Linked DNA regions of Homo sapiens: all the other regions are linked to region 1. The links come from fine-mapping of genetic effects on gene expression. A gene starts in region 1. Each other region holds a variant in brackets. All regions are shown on one strand. Distances are between the middles of the regions. Region 1 holds the start of CHKA (choline kinase alpha). Region 2 holds the start of TCIRG1 (T cell immune regulator 1, ATPase H+ transporting V0 subunit a3). Region 3 overlaps TCIRG1 (T cell immune regulator 1, ATPase H+ transporting V0 subunit a3). Region 4 has its middle 27 kb from the start of CHKA-DT.

Evidence for each region. PIP is the estimated chance that this variant, and not a neighbour inherited with it, causes the effect.
Region 2: its variant is fine-mapped to the expression of CHKA in whole blood (INTERVAL, PIP 0.95).
Region 3: its variant is fine-mapped to the expression of CHKA in whole blood (INTERVAL, PIP 0.94).
Region 4: its variant is fine-mapped to the expression of CHKA in whole blood (TOPMed, PIP above 0.99).

What each region holds. Positions count from the first base shown.
Region 1 is chr11:68,116,403-68,124,402 of GRCh38, forward strand. It overlaps CHKA (choline kinase alpha), which reads right to left and starts at 4,986. Exons shown (of 12, transcript NM_001277.3): 1 at 4,426-4,986. The coding sequence starts at 4,775. CHKA-DT (CHKA divergent transcript) reads left to right here and starts at 5,486. Exons shown (of 4, transcript NR_183630.1): 1 at 5,486-5,801. RefSeq lists enhancers at 2,494-2,683, 2,769-3,285, 3,711-3,840, 3,981-4,110, 4,959-5,724 and 1 more and silencers at 4,261-4,390, 4,961-5,390, 5,741-5,840.
Region 2 is chr11:68,032,161-68,040,160 of GRCh38, forward strand. NDUFS8 (NADH:ubiquinone oxidoreductase core subunit S8) reads left to right here. Exons shown (of 7, transcript NM_002496.4): 2 at 1-49; 3 at 126-176; 4 at 763-852; 5 at 951-1,123; 6 at 4,093-4,221; 7 at 4,302-4,484. The coding sequence ends at 4,433. It overlaps TCIRG1 (T cell immune regulator 1, ATPase H+ transporting V0 subunit a3), which reads left to right and starts at 6,865. Exons shown (of 20, transcript NM_006019.4): 1 at 6,865-6,959. MIR7113 (microRNA 7113) reads left to right here and starts at 704; the gene lies at 704-762. It overlaps MIR4691 (microRNA 4691), which reads left to right and starts at 1,737; the gene lies at 1,737-1,821. RefSeq lists an enhancer at 6,224-6,845 and silencers at 6,737-6,916, 6,977-7,056. The variant G/A (reference allele first, on the strand shown) is at 3,588.
Region 3 is chr11:68,049,247-68,057,246 of GRCh38, forward strand. TCIRG1 (T cell immune regulator 1, ATPase H+ transporting V0 subunit a3) reads left to right here. Exons shown (of 20, transcript NM_006019.4): 15 at 1-48; 16 at 417-542; 17 at 716-820; 18 at 891-1,008; 19 at 1,241-1,418; 20 at 1,495-1,649. The coding sequence ends at 1,573. CHKA (choline kinase alpha) reads right to left here. Exons shown (of 12, transcript NM_001277.3): 12 at 3,613-4,801. The coding sequence ends at 4,742. Among named protein-coding and RNA genes, the nearest start is that of MIR6753, 8.5 kb to the left of the region's middle. RefSeq lists an enhancer at 683-1,675. The variant A/G (reference allele first, on the strand shown) is at 3,687.
Region 4 is chr11:68,145,113-68,153,112 of GRCh38, forward strand. No RefSeq gene overlaps it. Among named protein-coding and RNA genes, the nearest start is that of CHKA-DT, 27 kb to the left of the region's middle. The variant G/A (reference allele first, on the strand shown) is at 4,451.

The DNA.
Region 1 (8,000 bases):
CTACCAAAAAATACAAAAATTAGCCAGGTAGCCAGGCGTGGTGGCTCATGCCTGTAATCCCAGCACTATGGGAGGCCAAAGCAGGCGGATCATGAGGTCAGGAGTTCAAGACCAGCCTGGCCAACATGTGAAACCTTGTATCTACTAAAGATACCAAAAAAAAAAAATTTAGCTGGACATGGCATGTGACTGTAATCCCAGCTACTCGGGAGGCCGAGGCAGGAGAATCGCTTGAACCTGGGAGGCAGAGGTTGCAGTGAGCCGAGATCGCGCCATTGTGCTCCCGCCTGGGCAACAGAGCAAGACTGTCTTAAAAAAAAAAAAAGAAAGAAAGAAAGAAAATGCTAATAACATACTATTGATTTGATAGGCAGGGACAGAAGTTAGTATTAAGTTGTGATGTCTGGAAATGAACAAATTTTCTAAGTGGTCAGCTCATTAACAACAACTCTCATGTTAGGACAATTTTTATTTTTCCCTATACCACTCATAGTTGAAGAGACTCAGACAAGGATCTCCGTTCATCACACAGCAAAGAGGCCAACTTAAGCTAAAAATGACAATTTCTACACTTATCCAGTTCCGGTGTGCCAGGCACTATCCTAGTGCTGGAGATACAAAGATGAACGTGAAATGCCCTCTAGGAATTCAATCTAACAAGAGAATGGAATGAATAAACACACACACAAACGTGTTAAGGGTTGTGATAACAAGGCCTGCATGTACAAAGTGCTAAGGATGAGACACAGAGGGGAAAGAAATTCAGTATGTCTGGTTCTCTCTGAGTTAAGCCTTGAAAGAGGAATTTTAAAGGAAACACACCAAGGGAAAGGCTGCCAAGCAGAGGGTAGGGGCAAAGAAAGGCCTGGAAACTGAAAACACAAAGCTCATTCAGAAAATGCAGGCTCCAGTGTAACTAGCTCAATGTTAGTTGCTGTGGTTCTGGAGAAGGAGTGATTTTAAAACAGTAATAACAAAAAGAACCAGTCTAAAAAGTTAGGCCGGGCAGGGTGCAGTGGCTAACGCCTGTAATCCCAGCACTTTGGGAGGCCAAGGAGGGTGGAACACCTGAGGTCAGGAGTTCGAGACCAGCCTGGTCAATATGGTGAAACCCTATCTCTACCAAAAATACAAAAATTAGCCGGATGTGGTGGTGCATCTGTAGTCCCAGCTACTCGGGAGGCTGAGGCACAAGAATCGCTCGAACCCAGGAGGCAGAAGTTGCAGCTAGCCGAGATCACACCAGCCTGGGTGACAGAGCAAGACTCCATCTCAAAAAATAAATTTAAAAATAAAAAATAAAAAGGTAGGCCAAGGCTCAAGTTTAGACCATGCAAACAAGTTTGGATTTTATTTTCCAATATTTGAGAAATCCATAGCAACAAGATACAGAATGGATTAGAAGGAACACACAAAATGCAAGAAGATCCTAAGGCACCTCCTGTTCTAGTGTCTAAGCAAGGACAGCAAAGGGACCAGACAGAAGGTGGGGATACAAAAGTAGCTCATCAGGTTTGAGTTACAACTGTGTGCAGAGGAGGGATTTCTGGGGGAATGCAGAGTTAGAAATGATCCTGGGGCTCTGGCCAGGCTGCTGCTACAAACGCAGAGCGAAAGCAGAAGCACATTCCTGGGTGGGGAGGAGCCAAAGGGTTAAATTTGGAATAGGAATGCACTGAGTTGAGGTGGTGAAGTCTCATCAACTACTGCAGATGCACTGGCACTCAGTGAAACACGGAGCTCCAGAAACGGATCGGGGCCAGGTATGGTGGCTCAGGTCTAAAATCCTGGCACTTTGGGAGGCTGAAGCGGAAGGACTGCTTGAGCTCAGGAGTTCAAGACCAGCCTGGGCAACATGGCGAAACCCCATCTCTACAAAAATACAAAAATTAGCCAGTAATGGTGGTGCGTGCCTGTAGTCCCAGCTACTTGAGAGGCTGAGGTGGGAGGATCACCAGAGCCTGGGAAGTCGAGGCTACAGTGAGCTGTGATCACACCACTGCACTCCAGCCTGCGCGACAGAGTGAAACCCTGTCTCCAAAAAAAAACCAAAAACCAGAATCAGATTGGGAAATGTCAGTAAAATTTGATAGCTGGAGCCATAATAACTGCAACTGCCTATGGAGAATCACTGAATTTCAACCAGACGAATTCCTCTCCTTCTCCGCACCTCCAAATGCCCTTGTGTCTTTTTTAAAAGCTAGACATCACCCACTTTCCCATGTCCTAAATCACCTTTTTTTCTCCTTATTAAACTTATTCCATAACTACGTTCTCTTTCAGAACACAGGACTGAGAGAGTGTACTCTTGCAACATTATGTAAAAAGGTCATCCAATCCAAAAGGAAAGCTGTGTTTTCCAAGACTGCTAACTCCTGGAGAAAAGAAACAAGACATCCTCAATGCTTTCCTAATAACTGGTTTGAGCAAAATGCAAAAGTTTAACTGCTGAGTGACTCTCCCTGGAGAAAGCCATGAAAATATCTTAAGGCTGGATCTAGGGTGTCCAAACATTTTCACAGGCCGCAGGCTAGAGCACTGGTGCAGGAGAAGGGGACACCAGAGACCTGGCAGTTCAGGCTTTGAAGGCAGTAAACAGCCACTGACCTCAGGCAAGTCACTTCTCCTTTAGGTTTTCCATTTCACAGACTGATGAGTACATGGCCTAAAATGATCGCCCTTCTAGTTGAGAATTTTCAGGCCTAACTAAAAGTAGATTAAAGTAAACCTTGGAGAGAGCTGAATTTTTTTTAAGTGCCATTAAGCAATTCAGGGATTATCTAAACAGCCTCGGTTTTCTTTTCTCTGCTTCCTTACCAACTGCCTATTAACTCTCACTCTTAGCTCATAAGCAGTCAGAGGGGCTGAAGCACAAAGAGGAAGTGAAGCTCAAAGAGTTAATTTTGCTGCATTAGCGGCTCTGGTGAAAGACAGTGGGCACAGAAAAGGAATCAAATGACCAAAACTGGACTTGGGGATTACTGGTGGCAGCCAGCCAGCAAATTTCTAGATACTGCACACAACCTGTCAGCCAATTAAAAGAAAATTGGCAGAAAATGACGGAACACGTTCTTTGTTTTTGTTTTTTTGAGACAGTCTCTCTCTGTCAAAGGCTGGAGTGCAGTGGCGTGATCTCGGCTCACTGCAACCGCCGCCTCCCAGGTTCAAGCGATTCTCCTGCCTCAGCCTCCCAAGTAGCTGGGACTACAGGTGTGCGCCACCATGCCCAGCTAATTTTTGTATTTTTAGTAGATATGGGGTTTCACCATGTTGGCCAGGCTGGTCTCGATCTCCCGACCTCGTGACCCGCCCACCTTGGCCTCCCAAAGTGCTGGGATTACAGGCGTGAGCCACTGCGCCCGGCCCGGGAACACATCTTTAAAGGTCTCAATAGAAGGATGCACACACTACGTTGAATGGTTATGTCTTCGGAGCAGAGTGGTGAAAGAAGGTCAGACTTCTGTTAAGTCTGAATACCTACACGCGTACTTCTGTAATTCAAATTTAAGATTAAATATTTTCAAGTTTAAAAAAAGGAAAAAATGGCCGAGCGCGGTGGCTCATGCCTGTAATCCCAACATTTTGGGAGGTCGAAGCGGGTGGATCACCTGAGGTCGGGAGTTCAAGATCAGCCTAACGAACATGGAGAAACCTTGTCTCTACTAAAAATACAAAATTAGCCGGGCGTGGTGGCGTGTGTCTGTAATCCCAGCTACTCGGGAGGCTGAGGCAAGGAGAATCGCTTGAACACGGGAGGCCGTGGTTGCAGTGAGCCGAGGTCGCGCCACTGCACTCCAGCCTGGGGACCAAGAGCGAAACTCCGTCTCAAAAAAAAAAAAAAAAGGAAAAAACATTTCTACCTTACTCTTATTTTAGGAGCCACGCCTCCCACCTTTGTCTAGTAACACAGCTATAGTGATGTCTCTTAGGGGATGAGAAAATGCTACTCCTCCACTAACAATGACTCTTGGAGAGGGAACAAGACATCAAATCGCGAACTCGAAAAACTAACAGAAAAAAGTTAAAAAGTGGTTTGTGTTTTTAAAGCCAGCCACAACACCTTCATTCAAGGCCCTAAACCGCAGAGACTTTCTAGACCTATCTTAAGCGTCAGTACCACACGCACTTCGTGATGGAACGGTATTGTTCTCCTAGAACAGACCCGTTTTCTCATGAAACCGACGTTTTTACAAAAGCCTGTTTGTGGACGGCCTGCGGCGGCCGCGAACCCGCTTCCCTTGGATTACCCAGGGCTGGGAGAAGGAGGGCTTTCGCCGGCTGCGGTCCCCGGTCCCCGGCCTCCGCCCCGGCCCCGGCTCCCCCGGCCCCCGACCCCCCCGGCCCACGCCCCCTGCCCGGACCCCGCCCCGGCCCCGCCCCGCGTCACCTGACTGTCCCGCGGCCCCCAGACCCGGCGCCACCGACCTGATGACACTGATGTGGAACTCGTCCTCGCGGAGGCCCCGCCAGGCGCCGGGCAGGAACTCCTTGCACCACAGATAGGCCCTGCGCCGCGTCCGGGGCTCCGGCTGCTCGTCTGCGGGCGGCTGCGGCGGCGGGGGCTGGGGCAGCGGCAGCGGCAGCGGCAGCGGCGGCGGAGGGGGCAGCGCGAGCGGCGGCTGTTGGCCGCCCAGCTGCTTGGACTCGAGGTCGCTGGCGGCGTCGCGCTGCTGCCCCACGCCGGGCGCCGGGGCCGCGCTGCCGCTACCGCAGCTCAGCAGCAGCCCGAGCGGCGAGGGCTCCGCCTCGCCCCCGGTGCAGAATTTGGTTTTCATGCCCGACAGGCGGCCGAGGAGGCGCGGGCGGCCGCAGCGCGAGAGGACTAGGCTCAGAGTCCGGCCGGGCGCCCCCTCGCCGCTCTCTCACTGGCAGGCCGGCGGGGCAGGGGGCCGCGGCGGTTGGGCGCGCGGGGCGGCGGCGGCGGCTGCGGCGACTGCGGCGACTGTGGAGCGGGGATGTGCTGCTGGCCGCTGCACTCGCTCCTCTGCCGCCGCCGCACGAGGAGCGCCGGCCGCGTCACAGCCCGCCCTCGCGCTCGCCACTGATTGGCCGCCGTCCGCCGGCCCGGCGCATCATAACCGCCGCCGCCCTCGCCACACCGCCTCCCCATTGGCTGCGGCGCCGCCCCCAACCCAGAGCGCTGCGGCCTCCGTGAGCGGGGCCTGGGCGAAGGGGGCGGGGCGTCGAGGGGGCGCCCCGGCGGTCGCAGGGAAGGGGGAGAGGGGAGCGAGGCGCGGGGGGCGCCGGGAGAGCGCCTCCGCGGTGGGACGGAGCCGGACTGGGCCGAGCGAGGGAGGCTCCTGAGCCTCGGAGGACCCCGGGGTTGGCTTTGGGAGCTGAAAGTTTCCTTGGACCCCTCGGAAGCCCCGTGACATCAGAGGCCGGGCCTGGCAGGGGCAGGCAGGAAACGTGTCTGGAGGCTACTGCCCTCTCCGCGTGACCTTGGGCGAGCAGCCTCCTCCTGGGGCTCAGTGGGTGTGATTTTGTAACATTTCCCAGCGCTGCCACAGGCGCGTCTCGCCCTGTCCAACGCGGAGCCCGAAGAATTACTAAGAAACCGAGGTCTGAAGGAGGGAAGAGGTGACGGGCTCGAGGCCACACGGTGGGCCAGGCTGGGCCCGGCTGCACGCCGGCTACCGGGGCCCAGCCCTCTGCACGCCTCCCGCAGCCTCAGTTTCCCTGTCCGTGGTACTGAGGATGCTCGGGCCTAGAAGTTCAGGGCTGGAGGCCCAGGGACCGTCGAGGGAGGGGCATCATCCCCGCCATGGGGCCGCCGCAACTGCCCAGAGCACAGGCCAAAGGTGCGTGCCACGGGGCTACTGGCGTTGTGGACGCTGCCCCTGCCTCCCCATCCCCCGCAGGAAACAGCCTTGTGACCGTGACTAACGCACCTTTGCCGGGGTAGAGGGGCAAGGGCCCCTGCTACCGTTTGCCACACACTGCCCCATGTCCCTCACTGCTCCCGTCCTTCCTAGAAGTGAGGTGCTGATACATATAAAAATTATGGATCCCATTTTATGGGACATGAGCTGAAACAGGAGGTTTCCTGGGCTGCCAGGGGCTTAGGAAATCCAGTGCCTGATACACAGGAAATGCTTCTATGTGGGGAGTTCACAGTCTTCCAGAAGCAAAAATGTTTTTTGGTTTTTTTTTTGAGACGGAGTCTTGCTCAGTCGCCCAGGCTGGAGTGCAGTGGCACGATCTCGGCTCACTGCAACCTCCGCCTCCCGGGTTCACGCCATTCTGCTGCCTCAGCCTCCCGAGTAGCTAGGACTACAGACGCCCGCCACGACGCCTGGCTAATTTTTTTTTTTTTTTTTTTTTTTTTTTTGTATTTTTAGTAGAGACGGGGTTTCATCGTGTTAGCCAGGATGGTCTCGATCTCCTGACCTCGTGATCCGCCCGCCTCGGCCTCCCAAAGTGCTGGGATTACAGGAGTGAGCCACCGCGCCCGGCCGCAAAAATCTTTTAGAGTGTGTACTTGGCTGAACTTGCTCCACGCAAAATGGTCTTATTTAAGGATAAAAATGAAAGGGGACTTTTGTAAGGCTGCTGTGGCGACAGGCCTGGAAGTTGACCTGCAGGGAGGTAGGAGAGACCAAGGCCCCTGGGACGGAGGCCGGCCACTGGATGTTTGAAAGGCTGAGAAGCCAAGGGCTTCAATCTGGGGAGGCCGTTTGGATAAAGGAGCCAAGGACTTTCTCTAAAAATACCGGCTCACAGGGAGGTGGGGCCATGCCAATGGCCTGCCCAGGTGACAAGCCCTTTGTCCCACTGTCCCCTGGCACCAGTCTGGTAATCTCAAAGGAATGCCAGAAATCTGGCCAGGAGGAAGGGACACTAAAGTAAGGAGTGGCCCTCTATAATTTGAAATAACTCTTTCTGGCATCTGCTGGCTTTTGTTAGGAAAAGCCTCAGACATTTTTATGGGATCACAGTTCCCTGTGGGAGGAAGAGGTTGCCTCAAGGCCAGGCATGGTGGCTTATGGCTGTAATCCCAGCACTTTGGGAGGCCAAGGCAGGAGGATCACTTGAGCCAGGAGTTTGAGACCAGCCTGGCCAACATAACAAGACTCTGTCTCGCCGGGCGAGGTGGCTCATGCCTGTAACCCCAGCACTTTGGGAGGCCGAGGTGGGCGGATCACAAGGTCAGGAGTTCGAGACCATTCCGGCTAACACGGTGAAACCCCATCTCTACTAAAAATACAAAAAAAATTAGCCGGGCGTAGGTGGTGCATGCCTGTAGTCCCAGCTACTCGGGAGGCTGAGGCAGGAGAATGGCATAAAACCCAGGAAGCGGAGGTTGCAGTGAGCCGAGATCGCGCCACTGCACTACAGACTGGGAGACAGAGCGAGACTCCGTCTCAAAAAAAAAAAAAGACTGTCTCAAAAATTAAAAATGAAAAAAAAAATTAACAGAGCATTGTGTCTTACACTTGTCCGACTACTTGGGAGGCTCAGCCAGGAGCATCACTTGAGCCTGGGAGGTCAAGGCACCCACTGCACTCCAGCCTGAGTGACAGAGTGAGACCGTATTTGCTGAATGAATGAATCAGTGAGCTCCTGGCTCAGCAATTATTAACTTATGACTTTGGGCTGAGCCTCGGTTTCCTCAACTATAAAATGGGGATTATAATACCCCGAGCATCCAGGATTGAGAGAATGTATGCAAAATGCATAGCATGCAAGAAGTAACCGTTTGGTTGCGTGCAGTGCATTGCATGGCGTTGCCTCTGCCAGTGGTTGGTTTTCGGAGATGAATAATGCATGCACTTGTAGCATTTCACAGCTTGGGAAGACAGTGTCGTATAAGAAAAGAATTTGGGCCGGGTGTAGTAGCTTATGCCTGTAATCCCAGCACTGTGGGAGGCCAAGGTGGGAGGTTTGCTTGAGGCCAGGAGTTCAAGATGAGCCTGGGCAACAAGTGAGACCCTGTCTCTACAAAAAATAAAATAATTGGCCAGGCACAGTGACATGTGCCTGTAATCTCAGTTACTTAG
Region 2 (8,000 bases), 84 kb before region 1:
CTGACCACGCCTATGCTGCTGCGGGCCCTGGCCCAGGCTGCACGTGCAGGTAGGACCAAAGAAGCCTTTGCTGGGGGTAGGGGAGTCCAGTCTCCTGGTATGACGTCACGCCCTTCTTTTTGCAGGACCTCCTGGTGGCCGGAGCCTCCACAGCAGTGCAGTGGCAGCCACCTACAGTGAGTACCTGGGTGGCCTCTAGCCTCAGGTGTTCCTGACTGGTCCTGCTGGAGTAGGGGAAGAGACCTGAGTTCCAGTCCTGGCTTTGTCAGGGGCGTTCTTCTCTGAGCCTGTTTCCACTTTTAAAATGATTATGGTGATGGAGACTGACTCTGATTCACAGGGGCAGGGTCCATCATTGCCGAGGTTAGCATGTGTGATCTCAGAGCTCCCTGGGTGTGATGGGGAGGGGGTTGCCAGGTGTGAGCCATGGGTACCTGTGCCTATTGCCAGTCCCTGGTGAAGGCAAAGGCTCAAGCCCCCCACCTACCCCCCTTGATTCCTCTTTCAAGCCCTGTTGGGCAGGGAAGTGCGTCTGGGCTCCAATGGCCACCCAAGCACAGGGAGAGGTAGGCACGGACGGGCTCAGGCCAGAGGCGGCCTCCAGGGTCCTTGCTGAGGCTGGGGAGAGGTGTGGTGAGTGTACAGCCCCTTTGTAGCCCAGCAGTTGCACCTGGAAGTGAGGGCCAGGCTGCTCTCCCTGAGGCTCCAGGGAGACAGTGTGTGAGGCCTCTTGCCATGGCCTCCCTGCCCGCCTCTCTGCAGAGTATGTGAACATGCAGGATCCCGAGATGGACATGAAGTCAGTGACTGACCGGGCAGCCCGCACCCTGCTGTGGACTGAGCTCTTCCGAGGTGCGTCCTGGGCATGAGGGGACAGGGAAGGTGCCGGGTGGGCACGGATGCATGGGGGAGGAGGGTGCCCCTGCCCACCACACCCGTGCTGCCCACAGGCCTGGGCATGACCCTGAGCTACCTGTTCCGGGAACCGGCCACCATCAACTACCCGTTCGAGAAGGGCCCGCTGAGCCCTCGCTTCCGTGGGGAGCATGCGCTGCGCCGGTACCCATCCGGGGAGGAGCGTTGCATTGCCTGCAAGCTCTGCGAGGCCATCTGCCCCGCCCAGGTGAGCCCCTGCCCCAACCGGCCACCACGCCAGCCCCTGCCACTGGGAGAGGGAGGCCAGGCAGCCCTAGGCCCAAACCCTAGCCCCTGCTTGATGTGCGTCCCCAGGAAGTCCCTTTCCCCCTCTGAGCCACTTCCCTCGTGAATGGGAATGATGAGGGCTTGTTACCAGAGCACAGAGTCAGTGAGTTGGCAGAGTGAAGCTTCCAGCCCTGGGCAGGCGCCTGACACACAGAGGTTCCCCCTTGGGGTCTGGCCAAGGGTGTGACCCCTGGGCCTCTGAGCCATGGGGTGACACCTGAGGCCATCCACGCCTCCCTGGATGTAGCCACCGTTTCCGGAGTCCTGCTTGTGTGCCTGTTGCAGCTTCCCTTCCCCAGTGGCTGCTCCCCTGAGGCCCGGCTTTCCGTTCTCTTAGTGGGTCTCGTGCTTACCCGTGGGGGCCAGGCCTGCCAGCACGGGAACAATATGACTCGGTCAGAGCTCTGGTCAGACCCCTGTGTGTGCCTGGCAGGAGCCCCGGCAGCCGCCGCCGCTACTTTCTGTGTGCACAGCAACCCCTCCCAGTGTTCTGTGACTCGGGTGGCTCCTGTCCAGATCCTAGTTTGTCCTCTGGAGCACTCCCAGGTCCTCCAGGCCATGAGCTGCGGCCCTGATGTCTCTACTCCAGCCACGGACTGAGAGTGCATAGGAGTGTCCCCAAACAGCAGTCACGATGGTCACAACCTTGGCTTCCAGACAGTGAGTGCTGTCCACAGACAGACCCGGTGCTGTGCCATGTGTGTGACTCACAGCCTCTCCTGTAATCTCCACAACCCCTCGAGGAGGTCGAGGTTATTGTCTCCATCTTTATAAGCACTAAAGGATGAGCCTGCCAGCCACAGGTCCCACTGTGAGTTGTGGACACTACATTTCTGGGATGGGGGCATATGAGAGTCCTTGCCAAGCACATTTGAAGGTTTTCCCAGCCAGCCCCTCCCCCAGCGGGCTACCCAGGAACTGAGAGTTAGGACGTGCCCTTGAGTTTGGGCTGTGCCCCCACTTGCTGTGTAGCTTTGGGGAGCCCCTCAACCTCTCGGAACCTTGTTTTTCTCATCCATCAAATGGAGAGAAGTAGATTTAAGGCACAGGATTGCACCCAACAGTGTAGGCATTCTTGGCGATGTTGCAGGTTCGGCTCCAGACCATCGGGGTAAACTGAGTCACACAGCTGTTTTGGTTTTCCAGTGCATTTAAAAGTTAGATTTAGACCGGGCACAGTGGCTCATGCCTGTAATTCCAGCACTTTGAGAAGCCGAGGTGGGCGGATCACTTGAGGTCAAGAGTTCGAGACCAGCCTGGCCAACATAGTGAAACCCCGTCTCTACTAAAAATAACAAAACTTAGCCGGGCACGTTGGCAGGTCCCTGTAATCTCAGCTACTTGCTAGGCTGAGGCACGATAATCACTTGAACCGGGAGGTGGGGGTTGCAGTGAGCCAAAATTGAAAAAAAAAAAAAAAATTAGGGCCGGTTGCGGTGGCTCACGCCTGTAATCCCAGCACTTTGGGAGGCCAAGGTGGGCGGATCACAAGGTCAGGAATTCAAGACCAGCCTGGCCAACATGTTGAAACCCCGTCTCTAGTAAAAATACAAAAATTAGCCGGGTGTGGGGTTGCACACCTGTAGTCCCAGCTACTCAAGAGGCTGAGGCAGGAGAATTGCTTGAACCTGGGAGGCGGAGGTTGCAGTGAACTATGATTGCACCACCATACTCCATCCTGGGCCACAGAGCAAGACTTCGTCTCAAAAAAAAAAAAAGGATTTACACTGTACTGTAGGCTGCGAAGTGTCTAAAACACAATGTATATACCTTAATTAAAAATACTTTAGGGGCCAGGCACAGTGGCTCACACCTGTAGTCCAAGTGCTTTGGGAGGTCAAGGTGAGGGGATTACTTGAGCCCAGGAGTTTGAGACCAGCCTGGGCAACATGGCAAAACCCCGACTCTACAACAACAACAAAAAATACAAAAAATTAGCCCCTGTAGGCCCAGTTACTTGGGAGGTTGAGGTGGGAGGATCGCTTGAGCCTGGGAGGTTGAGGCTGCAGTGAGCTATGAGCTGCACCACTGTACTCCAGCCTGGGTGACAGGGCAAGACTCTGTCTCAAAAAACAAAAACAACAACAAAAACTTTATTCCTAAAAAGTGCTGACCCAGAGATAAGAAGCAAGCACATGGTTGGTAAAATGACATCAGTGAGCTTGCTTTATGCAGGGTTGCCCCAAACCTTCAATTTGTAAAACTCAAAATATCTGGAAAGCTTGGTGAGGCGAGGCGGGACTGTAACTCAGCACTCACCGCAGGGTGAGACCCTTAGGGCAGCGGGTGCTACACTGAACAAAGCGGTGAACAGCCCCCTCGTGAGAGGGGGTTCTTGGCAGATGACGCCAGCAGCTGACAAACAGGCAAGGCAGGCCGGGCAC[G/A]GTGGCTCACGCTTGTAATCCCAGCACTTTGGGAGTCCAAGGTAAGCGGATCACAAGGTCAAGAGATCGAGACCATCCTGGTCTACATGGTGAAACCCCATCTCTACTAAAAAATACAAAAATTAGCTGGGCGTGGTGATGCACACTTGTAGTCCCAGCTACTCAGGGGGCTGAGGCAGGAGAATCACTTGAACCGGGAAGGCCGAGGTTGCAGTGAGCCGAGATTGTGCTGCTGCACTCCAGCCTGGCGACAGAGCGAGACTCTATCTCAAAAAAAAAAAAAAAAAAAAAAAAACCAGCAAGGCAGGGACGCCAGCAGGGCACGTGCTGAGGAGACAGGCGCGAGCACCAGAGGTGCAGGGCGGCCTCTTAGCCGGAGTCCAGGAGGCCTTTGAGGGGAGAGGGCTTCTGGCAGACCCCAGGGGTGGGGATGAGCAGTGACAGGGGCCCTGGGGGCTGGGATGTGACAGGGCAGCGTGGCAGTGTCTGGTGGCCCCTCCCGCAGGCCATCACCATCGAGGCTGAGCCAAGAGCTGATGGCAGCCGCCGGACCACCCGCTATGACATCGACATGACCAAGTGCATCTACTGCGGCTTCTGCCAGGAGGCCTGTCCCGTGGATGCCATCGTCGAGGCACGTGAGGCCCCCGGGTGGGAGGGGGCCTGAGGCTCCTCAGCAGGGCCTAACCACCGTCCCTGCACCTCAACCTGCAGGGCCCCAACTTTGAGTTCTCCACGGAGACCCATGAGGAGCTGCTGTACAACAAGGAGAAGTTGCTCAACAACGGGGACAAGTGGGAGGCCGAGATCGCCGCCAACATCCAGGCTGACTACTTGTATCGGTGACGCCCCACCGGCCCGCAGCCCCTGCTGCCCAATAAAACCACTCCGACCCCACGGCCTCTTGTCTTGACTCTGGTGGTCCAGGGTGGGGCCGTTCCCGGCCTGCCTGAGGCCTGTGGTGCCTCCAACTGGACTAGGTCGCCACCTAGTCTTTATGCTCTCTGGAGTCCTGCTGCCCCAGCCCTGCCTTCCTGTAGACTCCAGGGCCCCACCAGGCTCTCATGGCTAGACCACAGGCCGCAGCATCCCTGTCACCCTGCCTCTTCCTGGGCGTCTTCCCCAAGGCCCAGCGATGCCAGAGGTCACCACAGACCTGCCGTTCCCACTCTCCCGGGTGTCCTGGCTGGGGCCTGGGCCTCCTGTCTCCCAAGAGCCATCCACTTGTAAGACGCTTAGGACTTGGAGCCTCCCAAGACCTCAGGCTGAAGAACAGCAAGTGGCAGAAACTCAGGCCGGGGCATCCTTGCTGGGGGTAGGAGGAAGCCTGCTTGGGGTGACAGTCACACGAGGGTGACACAGGCCCTGCTGGCCCTGAGCTGGCCTGCGTCCAGCCACATCCTCTTTCCTGTGTTCCCTACGCCAGGGTGCTGGCCCGGCCACTGCTCACCACTTCCTGCTTTGCTGGCCCAGCGACACGGTGGGGTTTCCCTAGGGCCACACACAAGCCCCTTGCCCATATAATGGCCAAAAGCAGCCCCCCTGAACTTGTGCTAAGTACTGTGGAAGGATTTCACTTCATTTGCAGTGAGGAAACCAGCTCCGAGAGGTGAAAGGGCTTGCTCAGGGCCATGCAGGGCACATCCCATAATAAAACTCAGTTCAGAGACCTTGACCCCCCCCATCTACCATCATTTCCAAAAGTGCTTTTTACAAAGCACTACTTTGTAAAAAGCTACTTCTTCGAAAGAACAAGTTTCCTGGCCCAGTGAGTGTTGGAAATGCTCCAGCTGCTGTGTGCCTGCTGGCAGGTACTGCATGGTAGACATTCAAGGCTCTGAGAAGGCCTGCAGCAAAAACACCAGCCTCTCCCAGCCCATTCCCAGGGAGCTTTTCTCAGGTCTAACACCTGGGCCTCCTTCCTAGACCAGGCATTGCCATCTAATGCCAAAGTGGCCAGGCTCCCGCTTGGGCCCCACAGCCTGTGGCACTGGGGTGAGAAGTAACTGCAGGAGGCGAGGGGAAGCCTGGAGCCCGGGAAGTGTCCACAGGTCTGGCCCGCAGCTCATCTTGGCCACTGATGAAAACAGGTGTTCTTTCCAAAAACAAGGCAGGCGCAGGACTCCTGAAGCACCGCCGGTTTAGCTTTTCCCAGACGTAACCGCCGTCAGAGCGTGGCATGGAGCCTGTAGCTGTGCACTGAATACTTCTATTCCAAGCGGGTCAGTCTTTCCAGCTCACCGCTGGGTTCTTTCCCTTACCGTGGTCTCCCAGGCACTTACTGCTGAGACCCCACTCAGGCTGTCTGGTTGTATCAGGCCCCGACCCTGTCAGAACAGGCCTATGGCGCCCAACCACAAGTCCCCCAATTTTCTGAGGAACCACAGCTGAGCTTGGCTGTGACTCAGTTTCCAGGCCCGGCTCTGGGGCTCCACTTGTCCACCCCTGCCGCAGCCCCACAGGCCTGTGCTCGCTGTGTGGGGCTTAGGGATCACCAGAGCTGAAGGGCCCCTGGCCTCCAGTGGGAATGCCCCAGGCCTGTCCAAAGTGCAGGCAGCTGGACGGTCGTGAGTCCCAGCTTCCAGGCACTAGGACCTGATGACGCCCATGGTGCTGACCTGGAGCAAGGTCACAGTGACACCCCCCTCTACCCCCCGCGGCTGCAGCTGCAGGTGGAGCTGACAGCTGGCCTCTGGCCCCAGGGTATCTCCCAGGGCCTGCTGGGTGCGGGGCGCTGGGCAGAACAAGGCAGCATGGCCTGGCCCTGTGTCCTGCTGCCAGTGAAGCAGGCCCAGAGTGGGGCAGCCACCCACCCAAGGGCCAGAGCGGGGCCTCTCCAGGGTGGTCAAGAGCAGGAAGGTGTAAGCACCGGCGGGTTTCACTGCCGCCCAAGGGAGGGGTCCCGGAGGTGGGGGAGCATCCTGGGGACCCCAAGCCCATGAGCCTGCGAATGTTGGGGTCCCATCAGCCAGAGGCGCACAAGCCTCGAAGTGAGAGGAGAGCAGGGTCTCATCTCCTATCCTGAGCTGGGCCTGAGCGGAGCTGCCCCTGCATCGGGGCCAGCATAGACGCGCGCGGTTGGCAGTGGTCTGTTATCCGCTCCTTTCTCCAGGCCTCCTCTCCGGGATTAAGCGCCTCAGGACCCGTCCGCCAGGCCACAGCCTGGGCTCAACCTCTCCCAGACTTCCTGGACTCCAGTGGAGCCTTGGGCCGGGGGCGGGGCGTCCCTGGCCCCTCCCCGTCGTCCCGCCTGCCCGGAAAGGAGTGAGCGGCGCCTAGTCCCGGGCTGGCGGGAGTGCAGTTCTGAGTCCCGCCCGGCGTGCGCGGAGCGGGGCAGCCAGCAGCGGAGGCGCGGCGCGCAGCACACCCGGGGTGAGTGCCCCTGCCGGGGTCTGCGGAGCCCCAGAATTTCCTGCCCACCCTCTTCCCCCTGCCCCGGGGAGGAGATCCTGGCGCCCCACCCAGTTGGCTCCGTGAATGCAGCTCAGCCCGCCACCCCGCAGGGTGTCAGGCCTTGCGGGGGGCCACGGAGGATCCCCAAGGGAGGAGGAGAAGGATGGGGTGTTTACCAACACAGCCCAGCGTTCCCGGGCCTGGTGTGCGCGGAGCTTTCCCCGCTGCTGCTTCCTTGGAGGGAGGGACCCATTCTACAGATGGGGAAGCTGAGACCACACAACTAGGAAGTGTCAGAGCTGGAGACCAGCTGGGTCATTTGACTCCAGAGCCCACCCCATTTGGAATGGAGGGGGCGCCAGACCCTCTCCTACTGCCTTCCCATCATCTGGAGGGGAGGGCAGAGGTGCAGAGAGACCTGCTGGGTTCCTGGAGGGGCCAGGAAAGGGGCACAGGGTGAGGAGTGGGCTGGAGCCTGGACCCCAGGGCCGCAGGATGGAGGCGTATTCATTTACACCATAAAAGTGGCTGGGTGACCCTGGCTAGAGCGGGGACCAAGGGGGACAGGGGTAGGGGGTGAGCCAGTGGAGCCTCACATGCCAGGCACGGGGGCTGATCACGTCCCCACACCTTTCCCCCCGCCCATTACAGGTTGTTCCCCCACCCCCTGGGAAGTGCTGGAAGGAGCCCGGCCCTCGAGCCCTCGGCATAGTGGCTGTGGGAGCCCTGATGGCCCTGAGCCAGGGGTGACCCCTCCCCAGATCCCCAGAGCTGATTCCCCACACCTCCTTATTTGGCCAGCACAGCCCCAAAGGGAGCCAGGTCAGACACAACCCTCCTCTGAGCTCACCCTTTGTGCTGGGCACATAACATTGGACTTTACCTCTCCAAGTGTCAGTGGAGTCCTGTATGAAACAAAAGCACCGTACCCCCTCCCCAAGGGTTTCTCCCCCCAGGGATTAGTGTGAGGTCGTGTGGATGAAGGGATTCAGTTGAGGCTCTGGTTATTTTTGTCACCTC
Region 3 (8,000 bases), 67 kb before region 1:
TTCCTCTTCTCCCACAGCCCCAGCAACAGGCTGCTCTACCCCCGGCAGGTGGGCTGCGGCTGGTGGGGGCCGGGCTCACACGGCCTCATGGGGACCCCGCGGTCACAGGGCCACTGGGAGCTGCAAGATCCTCGTCCGAGAAACGGGGATGCAGGCCCCGGGCCGTGCAGACAGGGCCGTCAGAGGTGATGGTGTGCATCTTTAGCAGGTGGCACAACTGGCACTGGGAACCGGGGGTCCCTTCCCTCAGGAGTCCTTATGGAGGCAGACCCTCACCCAGTGAGGGCACGGAGCCCCCGGGGGCCCTGGAGGGAGGAGCGACCGCAGGCTCTCTGGGCCCCGTGACTGCTGTGACTCAGGTTCCTTTGCAGGTGTGCACAGCAGGGACGCCCTGACTCTCGCCCTCTCCCTGGCAGGAGGTGGTCCAGGCCACGCTGGTGGTCCTGGCCTTGGCCATGGTGCCCATCCTGCTGCTTGGCACACCCCTGCACCTGCTGCACCGCCACCGCCGCCGCCTGCGGAGGAGGCCCGCTGACCGACAGGTGGGACCGGGGCCTAAGGTGTGGGGGGCTGCTTGCGGGGAGAGGCCACTGTCCGGTGTGTCCCTGACTCCTCGCTTCCTGACAGACTCCTGAGTGGCCAGGAGCAGGCCTGGCGGGTGGTGGGGGACCTCCTGGGGCTGGAGTGCTGCCAACACTGCCTGCTCATGCCCCAGGAGGAAAACAAGGCCGGGTTGCTGGACCTGCCTGACGCATCTGTGAATGGCTGGAGCTCCGATGAGGAAAAGGCAGGGGGCCTGGATGATGAAGAGGAGGCCGAGGTGGGTGCAGTGCCTTCCTGGGGGTGGGACGGCTGAGGCCCTGCCGGCCCTCACTGCACCCGCCCCGCAGCTCGTCCCCTCCGAGGTGCTCATGCACCAGGCCATCCACACCATCGAGTTCTGCCTGGGCTGCGTCTCCAACACCGCCTCCTACCTGCGCCTGTGGGCCCTGAGCCTGGCCCACGCCCGTGAGTGACCTGGCCACCGACGGCTGGCCCCAGCTCCTGGCTTCTCACATACCGCTGCTGGCTGGGCGGGTTGCTTCTCTCTGGGCCTCAGTTTCCCCTCTGTAAAGTGGGACTGTCCAAGGAGGTCCCTCGCTGGCCCCCCGTGCAGGGAGGGCTTCAGGCTGCGGCAGGTAGGTAGGGGGCTGGCAGGCACCCACTTGCCGTTGGCCCCCACTGTCTCCTTTGCTTGCAGAGCTGTCCGAGGTTCTGTGGGCCATGGTGATGCGCATAGGCCTGGGCCTGGGCCGGGAGGTGGGCGTGGCGGCTGTGGTGCTGGTCCCCATCTTTGCCGCCTTTGCCGTGATGACCGTGGCTATCCTGCTGGTGATGGAGGGACTCTCAGCCTTCCTGCACGCCCTGCGGCTGCACTGGTGAGCGACCACCCACTGGCCTGGGCTGCTCAAGGCGTGAGTTCCCCTCACCAACCCCTCTGCTTCTCACCCCCAGGGTGGAATTCCAGAACAAGTTCTACTCAGGCACGGGCTACAAGCTGAGTCCCTTCACCTTCGCTGCCACAGATGACTAGGGCCCACTGCAGGTCCTGCCAGACCTCCTTCCTGACCTCTGAGGCAGGAGAGGAATAAAGACGGTCCGCCCTGGCAGTGATGTCTCGTCTCTCTTCCCTCCTTTTTAGCTGAGGCAGGTGGCAGGGTAGAAGGCATGGTGTAGGATCTGGGACCTCAAAAGTCAAGGCCTGGACCTGAGCAGATCTGCAATAATGTCAGACTCTTGGGGTGAAAAGGGGCAGAAAAGGGCCAAGGAGAGATGTTTCCAGCACATTCTAACTTGGAGTGAGCAAATGTCTTCCCAGGCCGGGTCAGGGGAGTGAGCTCCCCATCCTTGGAGGTGTGCACCTGGCTGTGAGCGGGTGTCTGGGTTACTCTCTGTTGGGAGTGGTGCCAATATCCATGCCCTGGTGCCGGGCCTCAGGGGTCTGGAAGTACAGAGCAGTGTGGGGCACCTGAGCCCCGGCCAGTGCTCCATGCAGGGCCATGGTGTCACACGCCCAAGGCCACACACCTGCCAGGAAGGGTAGAGGCTGTCCCCAGCAGCAGACATTACCCAGGACCCCGGGGTTCAGAACAGGGGCTGAGCCTGACTCCAGGCCCAGCCTCCCCTCACCTGAGACTACAGTCTTCCTGATCCCTCCCAGGTGGTCCTTCCTGCGTTGCTGGCAGAATGGGGGTGGCTTTCTGCAGTTCCCTCTGGCCTGGGTCCCACCCCCACTGGGAGGCAGAGGAAGTGCTTCCCAGAAGCCAACAAGCTGCAAAGTGGTTCTTCCCACAGCTGTGGCTGAGGCCAGCTGCTGGGAGGAGCCTGTCCATTGGCTCCTGGACTGCTTTGCTCAGGACCTCTGGATGCCAGGGGTCGTATCAGGGGCTCTAAGGTAATTCCACATGCCCAGCAGATTCAGCTTAGAGAAACGGTGCTCACAGTGCTGGGGTAGGAGCAGAGAAGGCTAAATGAAGGACTCCGGAGAGCTGCAGGTGGATCTGGACCAAATCCAGAACCCAACGCCTTACTCCCTCCTGGGGAGAGAGCTGGGCAGAGACTTGGGGCGGGCAGTGAGGTGGGGATAGGTGAGCAGCACTCGTGGTGAGTGGCCCCAGTGTGATTTAGGAGGGGTGCAGTGTGGGATCCCAGGGACATGACCAGTCAGCCCCGCCCTGGCTTTGACATGGGGGTGCCTGGCAGTGGTGGCTAGAGAAGTCCAGTTTGCCAAGAGAATGGCACATAAGGCACTGGGGTGGGCACCTCTGGGGCATGGACATAGGGAGACATAGGGATGGGGTGGGTCACCTGCGTGGAGGACTGGGCACTGAACAGCACAGGCCCGAGCCCATCCTTGTCCACGTGAGCTTATGGCCTGATGTAGAGACCACCAGGGGCTCCAGGAAAGTTAAGCTGCATGGAGAGAAACGATGGGCCAGGGCCGGGCCCAGGGTGGTTTAGGGAATGGCAGTGTCCTGGGTAGAATAGGAAGGCCTGAGACTGTGACTGAGCTGACAGTGGGGCAAAGTGAAGGAGCCCAGTATTGGAAGATCGGCTCCACATGTATCTCTGCGAGGAGACTGCAAGCGAGCTCGTGTGGACCAGGCAGAGGCGAGGGCTGAGTGAGGCCAGCAGTGGCCTGGGCACAGGAAGACGGTGAGTGAGAAGCCACTGGAGCTCCTGTGCAGGAGCGCAACACCTTTACTGCTTCATTCAGTTTGGCTTCACCTGCTTAAAACTGTAACTCTCTAGAAGGCTGAACAGCAAAAGCCTCCCTCCTGCCCAGCCGCTCAGCATCCCCAGGCACCAGCACTGCTCCCAGTCTCCAACGTCCTCCAGGGCTCTTCGCTTCTGGGCTAGAAGCAGGGAAACCAGAGTGTGCTGGGGAAGAAGAGGAGGAGGTGGAGGAGGGCTGATGATGGGGCCACATGCTGCTGGGATGCCAGCTGAGAGCAGCGGAGCACTGCTAAGCTAAGGGGCTGAGTGGGTGCAGATGGAGCCCTCCGTGGGCTCCTTCAGGTACCAGGAGCCCTGCCTGAGATTCAGGACACATCCAAGGGTGACAGCTTGAGGTTGGGTTTTTATTTTTTTATTTGTATAGTACAATCTCTGTGGTAGCAGAAATATATGCACAAAAAACAATTCAA[A/G]TAAGAGTTCAGAGTAAAAAAAAGTCAGCTAAGACTGTATCCCGCAGGACATTTCATATATATGGATTTCACAGCTACACTCGATCCACGCCCCACACCACATACAGGCTGCTGTCTCCCACAAGAATGATGATGTCAGGGGCATCAGGAAAGGTAAGGGCCGGGAAACCGGGCCCTTGGAGAACCCTGCCCAGGGGAGGCCCAGCCTACTCACAGGATCCGACACTCCAGGCAGAGCAGAGGGCAGGAGAGGCCCAAAGAGCTAGGTCAAGCAGCTGGCTCCCCTGGGAGGGGAGCCGGGAGACAGGGAGGTCCTCACACTGCCCCCGTGGCCACGCATGGCTGTCTGCACACTCCATCAGGAGGAAGGGCAGGGGAGAAGTCACATGCAGTACAGTGAAACTCATCAGTGTCACACACGCCCAGCAGGAGGGGAGAGCTCTGCTCCACACGCTGGCGGCCTTGGCTGCTCCAGAGCAATCCGCTGCTCCAGCTTCAGCCATGGGACCAAGAGGGTAAAGGAGCAGCTTCTGGAGGCCCCAGGCAGAGGCCACCTTGCAGCAGTGACTGGCGACTTTGCAGTACATCTCTGCTCACTTGCTGTCCCTTGGGAGTGAGCACCGTCTATAACACATCGCCATCTACAAAAGCCTGGTCACAGTGTTCACCAGCACATTCATGAAAATTTAAATCAACATTAACCAAAGTACCTGCAAGTAACACTGCTTACTCTTGCTGTTTGCCTCATCTGACTGGAAACCTTAGCCCCCAAATATGAAATGCCTTCTCTAGATTAAAAGGATTCAGAGATGTTGCACTATTGCACTATATTTCTGCTTCCCGATCTCGTTTCTGAGTCCTAGTGAAATCGTAAACAAGAGATGAAATAAACGTCGCTCCATTTTAATACCGTCTTTAGTATCATACACATGTGTTCAGTAGTGAGCCACCCAAAGCCTCCTGCCACAGGAGCAGTAGTCGAAGCACAGAGGGGACCCCGCTCTGCTGCCTCCCCATGCAGTCCAGTGATGAGGTGGATGGAGTCCTCCCCACAGTCACACCCCAAGCTTCCTCTTCTGGTGGAAATAGGCATCAAACCTTGCTTGGGCGTAGTCCTAGGAGACAGCAAAGAGAAGGCCTCAGCAAGGAATCCTGCTGGCCTGAACCCTGCCCATGTGTCCCCCAATCCCCACCCCAGGCAAGAGCTGAGGGCACGGACCCATGAGACCAAAAGCACAGGACTGGCCTGTGCAGCAGGGCTGCTCGGGGGCCTCGCTGCTCTACAGGTGCAGGCTCCTCAAGCTCCCAGCCCACCCCACACACCTTCATTCTCAGGAGGCCTGGTTTATAGGCATGGGCCAGCCCAGCCCTGCCTCTCAGGATGAACGTCTCATCCACATGCTTAGCACTGCTACCATTCATCACCTTGCTAACCCTGGGTGCTGTGGGCACTGACTGACCGACATAACACACCTTTTAGAGCAAAAGACCCCTGGGACACAGGCGAGTCTAGAACAGAAGGGGAGAAGAGGATGCCCATCGCCTATTTCCCGGGATCTCCTGCAGCATGACTTTTAAGAAGGACACTGAGAGGCAAGGGAGAAAACCCGGCTTGGTGTTCTGTTTCTGCCACTATTTTTCTGGGATTGTGTTGTGTGAGGACAACACAATCTCAAAGACCCACTCCTAATCTAAAAGTCTGCAATTCTAGAAGCCAGGAAGATTACAATTAACTTTTTTGAAAAATTAACTGAGCTGTAATTTCTACTCTACAAGCATGAGCCCATTTTAAGTGTCCAGTTGAGGGCCTTCACAGATGCATCCAGCCAGTTCTCCACCACCGCAGTCAGGAGACCTGTGTTTCCAGCATCCCTACAAGCTCCCATGGGCCTCTTGCAGTTGGCCACAGGCAGCCACCGACTCAATATCTGTCACTATGGACTGGACTTTTCTTTCCTAGAGTAGCACATAAATGCCACTATACAATATGCAGCCTCGTGTCTGGCTTCTCACTCAGCGTGCTGTCTCTGAGTGGCCTGTGCTGTCATGCACTGGTGCCACCTTCCTTTTGCACTGCCGAGTGTTCTCAGTACACGGATCTGGCACTGTCGTATCCACACACCTGCTGACTGGCATTTAGGCTGCTTCCAGTTTGGGACGATTATAAATGAAGGTGCAGACCGGGCGAGGTGGCTCACACCTGTAATCCCAACACTTTGGAAGGCCAAGGCAGACGGATCACTTGAGGTCAGGAGTTTGAGACCAGACTGGTCAACACGGCGAAACCCCCTCTACTAAAAATAAAAAATTAGCTGGGTGCGGTGGCGGGCGCCTGTAATCCCAGCTACTCAAGAGGCTGAGGCAGGAGAATTGCTTGAACCCGGGAGGCGGAGGTTGCAGTGAGCCAAGATCGGGCCACTGTACTCCTCCTGCCTGGGCAACAGAGTGAGACTCTGTCTCAAAAACAGACAAACAAATGAAGCTGCTATGAGTGTTTGAGTGCAAGTCTTGGTGTGGAATTTGTTTTCATTTGTTCTGGAAAAATTCCCCAGGAGGGCTGCTGGGTGGTCTAACCCATCTTCACACTGGCTGTCGCGACTGCATTCCCAGCAGCAGCGCATGCGCATTCCCATTGCTCCATGTGCTCGCCATTTGGGACCGTCAGTTCTTTCAAGTTTTAGCCATCACTGTGGGTGTGTAGGGTATCGCAATGAGGCTTTGATTCACATTTCTTTAATGACTAATTATACAAAACACATGAAAAGATTCTTACTGGCCATGTGTTTCTCTTAAGTGTCCAAATCTTCCATCCATTTATAAAGCAGGCTGAGGCCGGGCGCGGTGGCTCATGCCTGTAATCCTAGCACTTTGGGAGGCCAAGGCGGGTGGATCACCTGAGGTCAGGAGTTCGAGACCAGCCTGACCAACACAAAGAAACCCCGTCTCTACTTAAAAAAAAAAAAAAATTAGCCAGGCATGGTGGTGGGCTCCTGTAATCCCAGCTACTTGGGAGGCTGAGGCAGGAGAGTCGTTTGAACCCAGAAGGCAGAGGTTGTGGTGAGCCGAGATCGCACCATTGAACTCCAGCCTGCGCAACAAGAGCGAAACTCCATCTCAAAATAATAATAATGAAGCAGGCTGTTTGGTTTCTGGCTGAGTTATGAGTTCTTTATATATCCTAAATATGAGTCCTTTATTAAATATACATTTGTAGTATTTCCTCCCAGTCTGTGGCTTGCCTTTTCATTTTCTCCATGATATCGTTCAGAGTTACTCATTTTGATAAAGTCCAACTGTGATGACATATATGTGTGTTTTTGTCCAGGGTCCCTGGCTCATAACTCCCATAGCCCTTACTACAGTAAACAGAATCTCTCTCTCTGACCTTCTGCCGTCCTTTCACCTGCCCAAAGCTAGACTCTAATCTGACTGTGGGTCATAAGACTCTTATTCCAGAGGGGGTCCTGCACCATACCCTGGGATAAGGAATGCTGTACAGAGAAGCCCGAAGAACCTGGTCAGGTCTTGCTAGGTTTAGATCACACCTTTTTTGTCCAATCACATTTCAACACGGTTGTCCACATTTCAATCATGCCTATCCAATGACATCTCCATAAAATGCCCAAGAGGACAGGGTTTGGGGAGTTTCTAGAGAACTGAATGTGGAGGCTGACAGGAAGGTGAACAAGAATGAGTTCCCCAACCCACCCACAGGGACAGAAGCTCCTGTGCTGGGAATCCTTTCAGACCTCACCCCACCTATTTATCTCTTCACCCTTAAAATACCCTTTGTTAGCTAGGCATGGTGGCGGAATGTCTGTAGTCCCAGCTACTTGGAAGGTTGAGACAAGAGGATCGCTTGAGCCCAGAAGTTGGAGACCAGCCTGGGCAACACAGTGAGACCCTGTCTTAAAAAAAAAAAAGTAATACACTGGTAAACTTACGTGTTTCCCTGAGTTCTGTGAGCTGCTCTAGCAAATTAATTGAACCCGAGGGGAACGTGGGAACTCCAATATATGGCTAGTTGGTCAGAAATTCCAGAGGCCTGGACTTGCAACTGGTGTTGGAAGTGGGGGGCAGTCTTAAGGTCTCAACCCTCAACCTGTGGGGTCTGACTCTGTCCCCACGTAGACAGTGTCGTAATGGAATTGGAGGGCACCCATCTGGTGTCCACTCCAGAACTGATTACTTGTTTGTTGGCGGGGAGAACCACCCCTGACGTGGTCACTTTAGTCTTCTGTGGTGATGATTGTTGCTGATGAAAGGAATGGGAAAAAGCACTTTGGTTTTTATGTGTTTCCTGCTCACAGCAAC
Region 4 (8,000 bases), 29 kb after region 1:
GTGCCCCGTGTAGATCATGGTACAGAGTGGAGGCTCAGCAAACAGAGCATAAATGAATGAGTGAGTGAATGAATGCATGGAATCTTGGGGTGAGTTTCCCTGAAGACAGCCCCAGGGTGCTGTGGCTGTAGGAGCTGGACCGTCTAGTGCCTTGGTCTGGGGGTGGCTGAAGCTGGAGGAGGGAAAGAGGCCAGTCCTTTGCAGCTTCTGGAGGCCAGAGTCCAAGGTCAGCTTCTCTCAACAGGACCCCTCTGAACCCGGCTGACACCACGGCCTTTGGAAGCCATGTGGTCAGTAACACGCTGTCACCCTTACTGCAGTCTGTTCACCTGACCTAATGACTGGGAACCTCAGGTCTGTGACTCAATGCCCAGAATGCTGTCTGGTATGGGGGTATGGGTCACACCTGGCTCATCTCCAGGACAGCCCTGTTCTGCGTGTCTGCCAGCCAAGGGGTCACGTGCTAACCTGGCTGCCCCACTGGGGGTGGGAGGGGCAGCTTCAGGATGGGGCCGCATCAGGCCCCATCTCCCTACCAGGCCCGTCAGTGGGCACCCTGAGCCTCTCTCTCTCATTCCTTCTTTTGAGCCTGCAGCACTACTCCCCGACCAAAGCACACTTTCCCTTCTCGTCTGGAGGAGAGATGGGGCCTCGTGCCAGCTCTGCCCCTGCCTGACACACACGCTTGGCCCGTCACTGAGCCTCAGTTTCCCTCTCTGTATTTCTTGGCTGTGCAAAGGCAGTCGGGGGAGGCTGGCCCTTTAAGCTGGATGAGGCTGGTATTTTGTGTTTTTTTTTGAGACGAAGTCTCACTCTGTCACCCAGGCTGGAGTGCAATGGCGCGATCTTGGCTCACTGCAACCTCCGCCTCCTGGGTTCAAGTGATTCTCCTGCCTCAGCCTCCCAAGTAGCTGGGATTACAGGTGCCCACCACCACACTCAGCAAATTTTTTGTATTTTTAGTAGAGACGGGGTTTTGCCATGTTGGGCAGGCTGGTCTTGAACTCCTGACCTCAGGTGATCCGCCCGCCTTGGGAGGCTGGGTTTTTGAGCTTTGTGCTGTTGGGGCCCAGCCCTCAGGGCCGCGTGGGAACCCCCGGGGCGGGGTGTTCTATACCAGGAAGTAGGCAGAGGGCCAGCCCGAGGACAGTTCGTTTCTTGCCAGTCCCCTGACCTCTCTTGGCACACAGCCTGTGGCAGCAGCAGGTTGAAGCCAGACGCTGCTCAGACCTCACACCACGTCGTTTGCCCAACCCAGAGAAAGCTCTGTCCCCGGCTTCTGGCTCCTTCTCTGCCAGGACTCACTGGGTGTGATGAGTTGGTCTTGGGGCACTGTCTGGGCACAGCCTGTTTGCCCAACATGGCCTCCTGGGCTCCATGCTTCCGCAGGTGGGAGGGGTCTGGACTGGCCCAGGGGCTCTGACAGCGGCTGGCAACCTGAGGTTTTGACTTCAGGGTGACCTGAATCCTGCCGCATTATGGAGGCTGGAGTCTCTGGGGGCTGCTTTCCCAGAGAAGAAGCTCCTTCCCCATCAGCCTGACATTGGCTCCAAGGACTCCATGTGGCTGGAGGGCTCAGGGCTAAGGGGAGGGAAGCCCCGGGATGGCAGTGAGGGGTGAGGGAAGATTTGGGAGGTGACATCTACAAAGAGACCTGAGCGGGTGGGGCAAAGAGGGGGTCCCAGGCAGAGGGAGAAGCAAGTGCAAAGACCTTCATAACCCAGGGGAGCGCTGAGACCACCGACCAGCAGCACCCCCACTTCTTCAAGCCACCACTCCTCAGGGCCTCCCAGGGGTCCCCAGCCTGGAGCACCCCATGTGGTAGAGCTGGTAGGCTGGGGGACACTGGGGACTGCTGTCCCACTTGGAGCCTCGGGCTACTCCGCCCAGGAGCAGCGATGTGGAACCTTGTTGGATTTTCATGTTCCCAAACATCCAGGAGACACACAGTTGTGAGTTTCCAGCCAGGCGATCTCTAAGGCCAGAGCAGCCCTTGTGGGTGTCAGTGAGGAAGGGCAGAAAGACTCTGGCCTCAAGCTCAGCTCCCTGCTGCAGGGAGTTGAACGCCCCTTTGGTGAGTGGCTCTAGCTAAACAAACACGTGTTATCATCTGTCAATAGCGGCCACCTCCTTGCTGGCTGGGCTGCTGCTGGCTCAAAGCCCAGAGCAGCCCTTCCGGGGCACTGCCTGCCACAGCCAACAGTCAGGGAAGGGCAGCTACTGCCCTGGGTTCAAGCCCGGGCTACCCCTGCTCCTGCTCACTGTGTGTCCCCAAGCAAGTCACTGTCCCTGCCTCTCTGTACAGTGGGAGGCCTGGATCTCTCTGCTCTGGGAAGACACCCAGCCCTGGAATGGTTGGGCCACACTTGGGGCTGGGGGCCAGGAGGAAGTTGGAGGGCTGGGCTGGGGCTGGGGCTGATTAGTTGAAGCCAGTAGAAAAGTACAGGCTTTGCTATTAGATTCCAGGAAATAACAAAAGCTGCTAACAGTTACCGAATGCTTACCACGCACCCGACGTGGTGCTCACGCATCTTTTGCTGTTTTATTTCATCCTTAGTGAGTTGGGTACTATTATCATCTCCATTTTACAGAGCAGAAACTAAGGCTCAGATAGGAGACGCTGCAAAATCAGGAGGTGGTGAAGACAGAATGTGCCCCTAGGGTGCTGATCAGGGCCCTCACCTAGAGGCAGATGCCCCCATCTCCTAAGGTCAATGGTCCTCAGCTATCATCCCTTTTTTTTGTTTTTTGAGGTGGAGTCTCGCTTTGTCGCCCAGGCTGGAGTACACGATCTGGGCTCACTGTAAGCTCCGCCTGCCGGGTTCACACCATTCTCTTGCCTCAGCCTCCTGAGGAGCTGGGACTACAGGCGGCCGCCACCACGCCTGGCAAATTTTTTGTATTTTTAGTAGAGACAGGGTTTCACCATGTTAGCCAGGATGGTCTCGATCTCCTACCCGCCTCAGCCTCCCAAAGTGCTGGGATTATAGGCATGAGCCACCACGTCCGGCCAGCTATCATCCCCTTTTAAACTTTCTGGACTGGCCACGCTGAACTTCTCACCCTCCTTTCCATAAGACACCCTGTCCTTCCATGTCTCCAGGACTTTGCAGGTGTCCACCGCCTCTGCCCTTTGGGCTTATGAACTCCTATTCATCTCTCAGGACCCTTCTTAATTTTACCTCCTCCATGAAGCCTGCTTTGCTTGGTTCCCCAGCAGAAACAGGGGGCACTCTCCTTGGTCCTCCTGCCACGCTTCTTCCACACATGCATCCTGGCAATTACCACATTTTACTGATGTTCGTGTGTGTTTCCCTGGAGGGAAAGGAGTGGGTTTCAATCACCCCCATATCCCCTGTGCCTTTTGAGTGACCAGCCGTTATTCGGCACTCAAATAGGGAAGGCTGTCAGGGGAGCAGCTGACTGCAGAGAGACTGCCTTGGAAGGAGGAGAGGCCCGGGGGTGGAGCGGAGGTTTCGGGTAAACAGAGGCGGCCTGACTGACAGAGGGGCATCAGCCAGGGGAAAATAGAACCGGGATCCAGGATCGTCTGAGTACGCAGCTGAGCTGGAGAAGGTTGTAATGAAGGCAGTTTGAGCAGGTGTCAGCTGAGGAGGGCAGAGGTTAGGGGCAGAGCAGGGCGCATGAGGTGTCTGGGGTGCACCCACAGACTGTTGAGGCAGGACACGGGTACCAACTGACTTGGGTGCCAGACCCATGTGAAGGGCACGATGGGCACTCTCCTGCTGAATCCTCAACAAACCCAGAGCGCTTTCACTCCCTCTGCTTTACAAGTTACAAATCTGAGGTTTGGGAACAAGTGAGGCAGGGCAGGTGCCCCCCAACCTTGCCCCAGGCCAAGTGGGTGCCTGAGTCAACTCTGGTCCACTTGGATGACAGTCATGTGCCACCACACCTAGCTCAGCCTCCCCAGCTTGCCGCTTACCGCAGAAGAAAAACATGGTTTGACTAGCAAGAGGAGGAAATTAGAGTTTTGTGTATAGAAGAGTCACTCTGGGCCGGGCGCAGTGGCTCACACCTGTAATCCCAGCACTTTGAGAGGCCAAGGTGGGTGGATCACTTGAGGTCAGGAGTTTGAGACCAGCCTGGCCAACACGGTGAAACCCTTTCTCTACTAAAAGCATAAAAATTAGCCGGGTGTAGTGGCAGGCGCCTGTAATTCCAGCTACTCGGGAGGTTGAGGCATGAGAATCGCTTGAACCCAGGAGGTGGAGGTTGCAATGAGCCAAGATCGTGCCACTGCACTCCAGCCTGGGCGACAGAGTGAGACTCTGTCTCAAAAAAAAAAAAAAAAAAAAAAAGGAAAAAGAAGAGTCACTCTGGAGAACAGCTAAGTCCAAGACTCCTGGCCTGTAGCTTCCAGTCACGTTCTATCAGTGCTCAACTTGCCATCCCCACTGAGGCTGGTGTGATGAAATCAAAATTACCT[G/A]ACCCCGGCCTGCTGCTCAGGGAGTAACCACACTCATGAAGAGTGGCAAAAGTGTAACGTGCTTTGCAGACGTGCTTATGAGATGTAAATTGCCTTTCGGTAAATAGAACCCTGCTTCCCATTCATGTAATTATAGCTTCCAGCCTCTGCCCCATGAGAGAAAACACTTGTCCTGAGGGGAATCACAGTAATAATTTAGAGAATAACACAAGAAACCTTCTCCTCATCAAATGCAGTTATTCCTTTGCCCCGGATGACATTTCTGTCAAGTCGCTATTAAAATCACCAAGTCCAGGCTGGGCATGCTGGCTCACACCTGTAATCCCAGAAGTTTGAGAGGCCGAGGTGGGTGGATCACTTGAGGTCACGAGTTCAAGACCAGCCTAGGGAACATGGTGAGACCCCGGCCCCCACCCCCATCTCTACTAAAAATACAGAAAATTAGCTGGGTGTGGTGGTCTGTGCCTGTGGTCCCAGCTACTTGGGAGACTGAGGTGGGAGGATCGCCTGAACCCAGGAGGTCGAGGCTGCAGTGAGCCAAGATTTCACCACTGCACTCCAATCTTGGGCAACAAAGCAAGACCTTGTCTCAAAAAAAAAAAAAAAAGAAAGAAAGACAGGAAAAACAAAACAAAACGAAAAAAACACTAATCGTCAAGTCCAGCAGCCTGCCTGGCTGGAGGAAACCTCGGACTTCCTTTGCTGTCTCTAGGCATGCTCCGCTCCCCTCCAGTTTGACTCACCCTTTCAGATAACAAGAGGCCTGCCCCCATGGAGTGCCTGAGGGCCAGCAAACACCTGTGGCTTCCTAGGAGCCCGTGCTTTGGGCAGTGGCACCTCTCCCACTTTTCAAGCTCCCTAAGCATATTTGACAGTGGGCGTGGATCACCCCACTTATCTGGGGCATAATCTTTAGACAGACTTCTCCTGGCCCCACATAACTGCATGGAAAGTGGGTAGAAAGCAATGATTCCTATTTTTCGCCCATAGGGATTCTTTTTTTTTTTTTTTTTTTTTTGAGACAGAGTCTCGCTCTGTCACCAGGCTGGAGTGCAGTGGCGTGATCTCGGCTCACTGGAACCTCCGCCTCCCAAGTTCAAGCGATTCTCCTGCCTCAGCCTCCCAAGTAGCTGGGACTGCAGGCGTGTGCCACCACACCTGGCTAATTTTTTGTATTTTTAGTAGAGACAGGGTTTCACCGTGTTAGCCAGTTTGGTCTCGATCTCCTGACCTCATGATCTGCCTGCCTCGGCCTCCCAAAGTGCTGGGATTACAGGCGTGAGCCACCGTGCCCGGCCTTTTTTTTCTTTTAAAGAGATGGATCGGTCTTGCTATGTTGCCCAGGCTGGACTCCTGGGCTCAAGTGATCCTCCAGCCTCAGCCTCCCAAGTAGACCCACAGGAATGCCGAGGAGACAGAGACTTTCAGAATCACCCTGGCAAAGGTGGGGCTGCGCAGCTGGGGCTGGGGGTCTCTGGAACACTGGCAGCTCTGTGGTCCTTACCTGTGCTCTCTAGATATTTGAGATGAGCCTGGGCAATATAGGGAGAAGCCCGTTTCTACAAAAAGTAAAAAAATTAGTGGGGCATGGTGGTGCGCACCTGTTGTTCCAGCTACTCAGCAGGAGGCTGAGGCAGGAGGATTGCTCAGGTCTGGGAGGTCAAGGCTACAGTGAGGCATGGTCACACCACCGTACTCCAGCCCGGGTGACAGAGTGAAACCCTGTCTCAAAAAAACAAAACAAAAACAAAAAACAAGCTGGTGCCTTGGAGCCTGGGGTTAATGTCTGCCTCTGTCACTTGCCACCAGCTGCACAATCTCAGGCAGGCCGATTTCCTTGTTTATTAAGGCCCCAGAGCACCACCACCCTGAGTGGGGTATTCCCCGTTCGTTTCCCCACAGGCCCAGTTTCTGTATGGCTCCCTGTATGGAGTGTGGTAGCCCCCCAAGGCATGTTGCTTTGTTCCCTGAGCCCCAGAAGCCTGCACTCACTGGAAGTCCACTGGAGGCCCACCATGAAGGTTGTCTGCCATCCTCTTGGGTGACCCATGCCATGATTTCTCACAACTGTGACCACTCCACTACCAGGGTCCCGACTAGGACCTTGTTCTCACAGGAAAGTGTGGCCCCTCCAGAGCTCTGAGCGCCTGTTCTCCGCCTGCCCTCCACACTTGCTTACTGCTCCAATGCTTGGCAGTCCTCTGCCCACAGGGAGCCTCCAGGATTCAAACACCTCCACCTTCACCTGTCTAGTGACCCACTCAGCTCACAGACTTGCCTTTTCTTCCCTAACCTGCAGGTATGCACGGCTTCTCATGCAACCCCTTCTCCTGCCAACCTGAACCCTAGGGCCCCCAGCCCTGCTGTCTTCTGTGGTCTCCACCTGGGTAAAGGCCCACGTGTGCCTGAGAGGCTCACACCTGTGCAGGGAAGTGCTGGCCACCAGCCTGGGCTCAGGACACTGACCTGGTACCTTGAAAGTGATGAGTAGATATTTCTTTAATGAATGATAACTAGGTTTCTACAGTCAGCATGCTTTCCCATTCTCAATTTCAAACCTCCTTCTTACTCCTCAAACCTCCTGGCCCTCCTGTCTTCACTCTCATCTGCCTCCTACTTACCAGACAAGAGAAAACCTCACTCTGGACTGGCTCCCTCACCACATCCCAAATCCTCTTTTCCTCCTGGAAGGAAGACGGATCTACTCTCTGAAGACCCCCCTGAGGCCCTACTCCAAGTAACTCCTTCACTTTCTTTCTCAGAACACACTTACTATGCAAGCTCCCCGCCTCCAAGATTCAACTTGGGTCTCCTATTAATGAAATGAACCTCCTCCCTTCCCAGTGGTCATCCTCTCTCGTTCCTCCTTCACAAACTTTGCCTCCACCCTCTCAACCCATCCGGCTCTTCCTTGAAGCACTGACCTAAGCTCAGCTCTCCGAAGTCGAGGACCAACAGCGGGGGAGCAGCCTTTCCTGCCGCCCCCAGGCCTCAGTGAGGGTGGGTGCAGGGGCTGCCCTCAGCCAGCTCCCTAGGCTAGCTCACTGCTGTGGTCTGAGCATGGCCCCAGGTTCATGCTGGAAACTCAGCCCCCAGTGCAACAGTGTGTTGAGAAGTGGGGTCTAAGAGGCAATTCGGTCATGAAGGCCCTGCCTCATGAATGAATGGATTAATGCCATTATCGTGGGAGTGGGCTCCCAATAGAAGTCAAGCCCCTTCCCCTCTCTGCAGCACGGGACGATGCAGCAGAAAGGTCTTCCTCGCCAGAATCGGCCCCTCCATCTTGAACTTCCCAGCCTCCAGAACCATGAACCAAACAAACGTCTATTGGTTCTAAATTGCCCAGTCTGTGATATTGTGATAGCAGTACAAAGAGACCAAGACACCCACTCTCATGGCTTTGATTTTACCCCACATTGAAGATTCAAATCTTGTTCCCTGCTCCAAACCCCAAGAACGTACTAGGTGCTCAAACAACACGGAAGTGCACCTTCACTCCTGCCACACTGGGCCCCAGCTGCTCAGGGCCTCACACTGGTTCCAGCGGTCT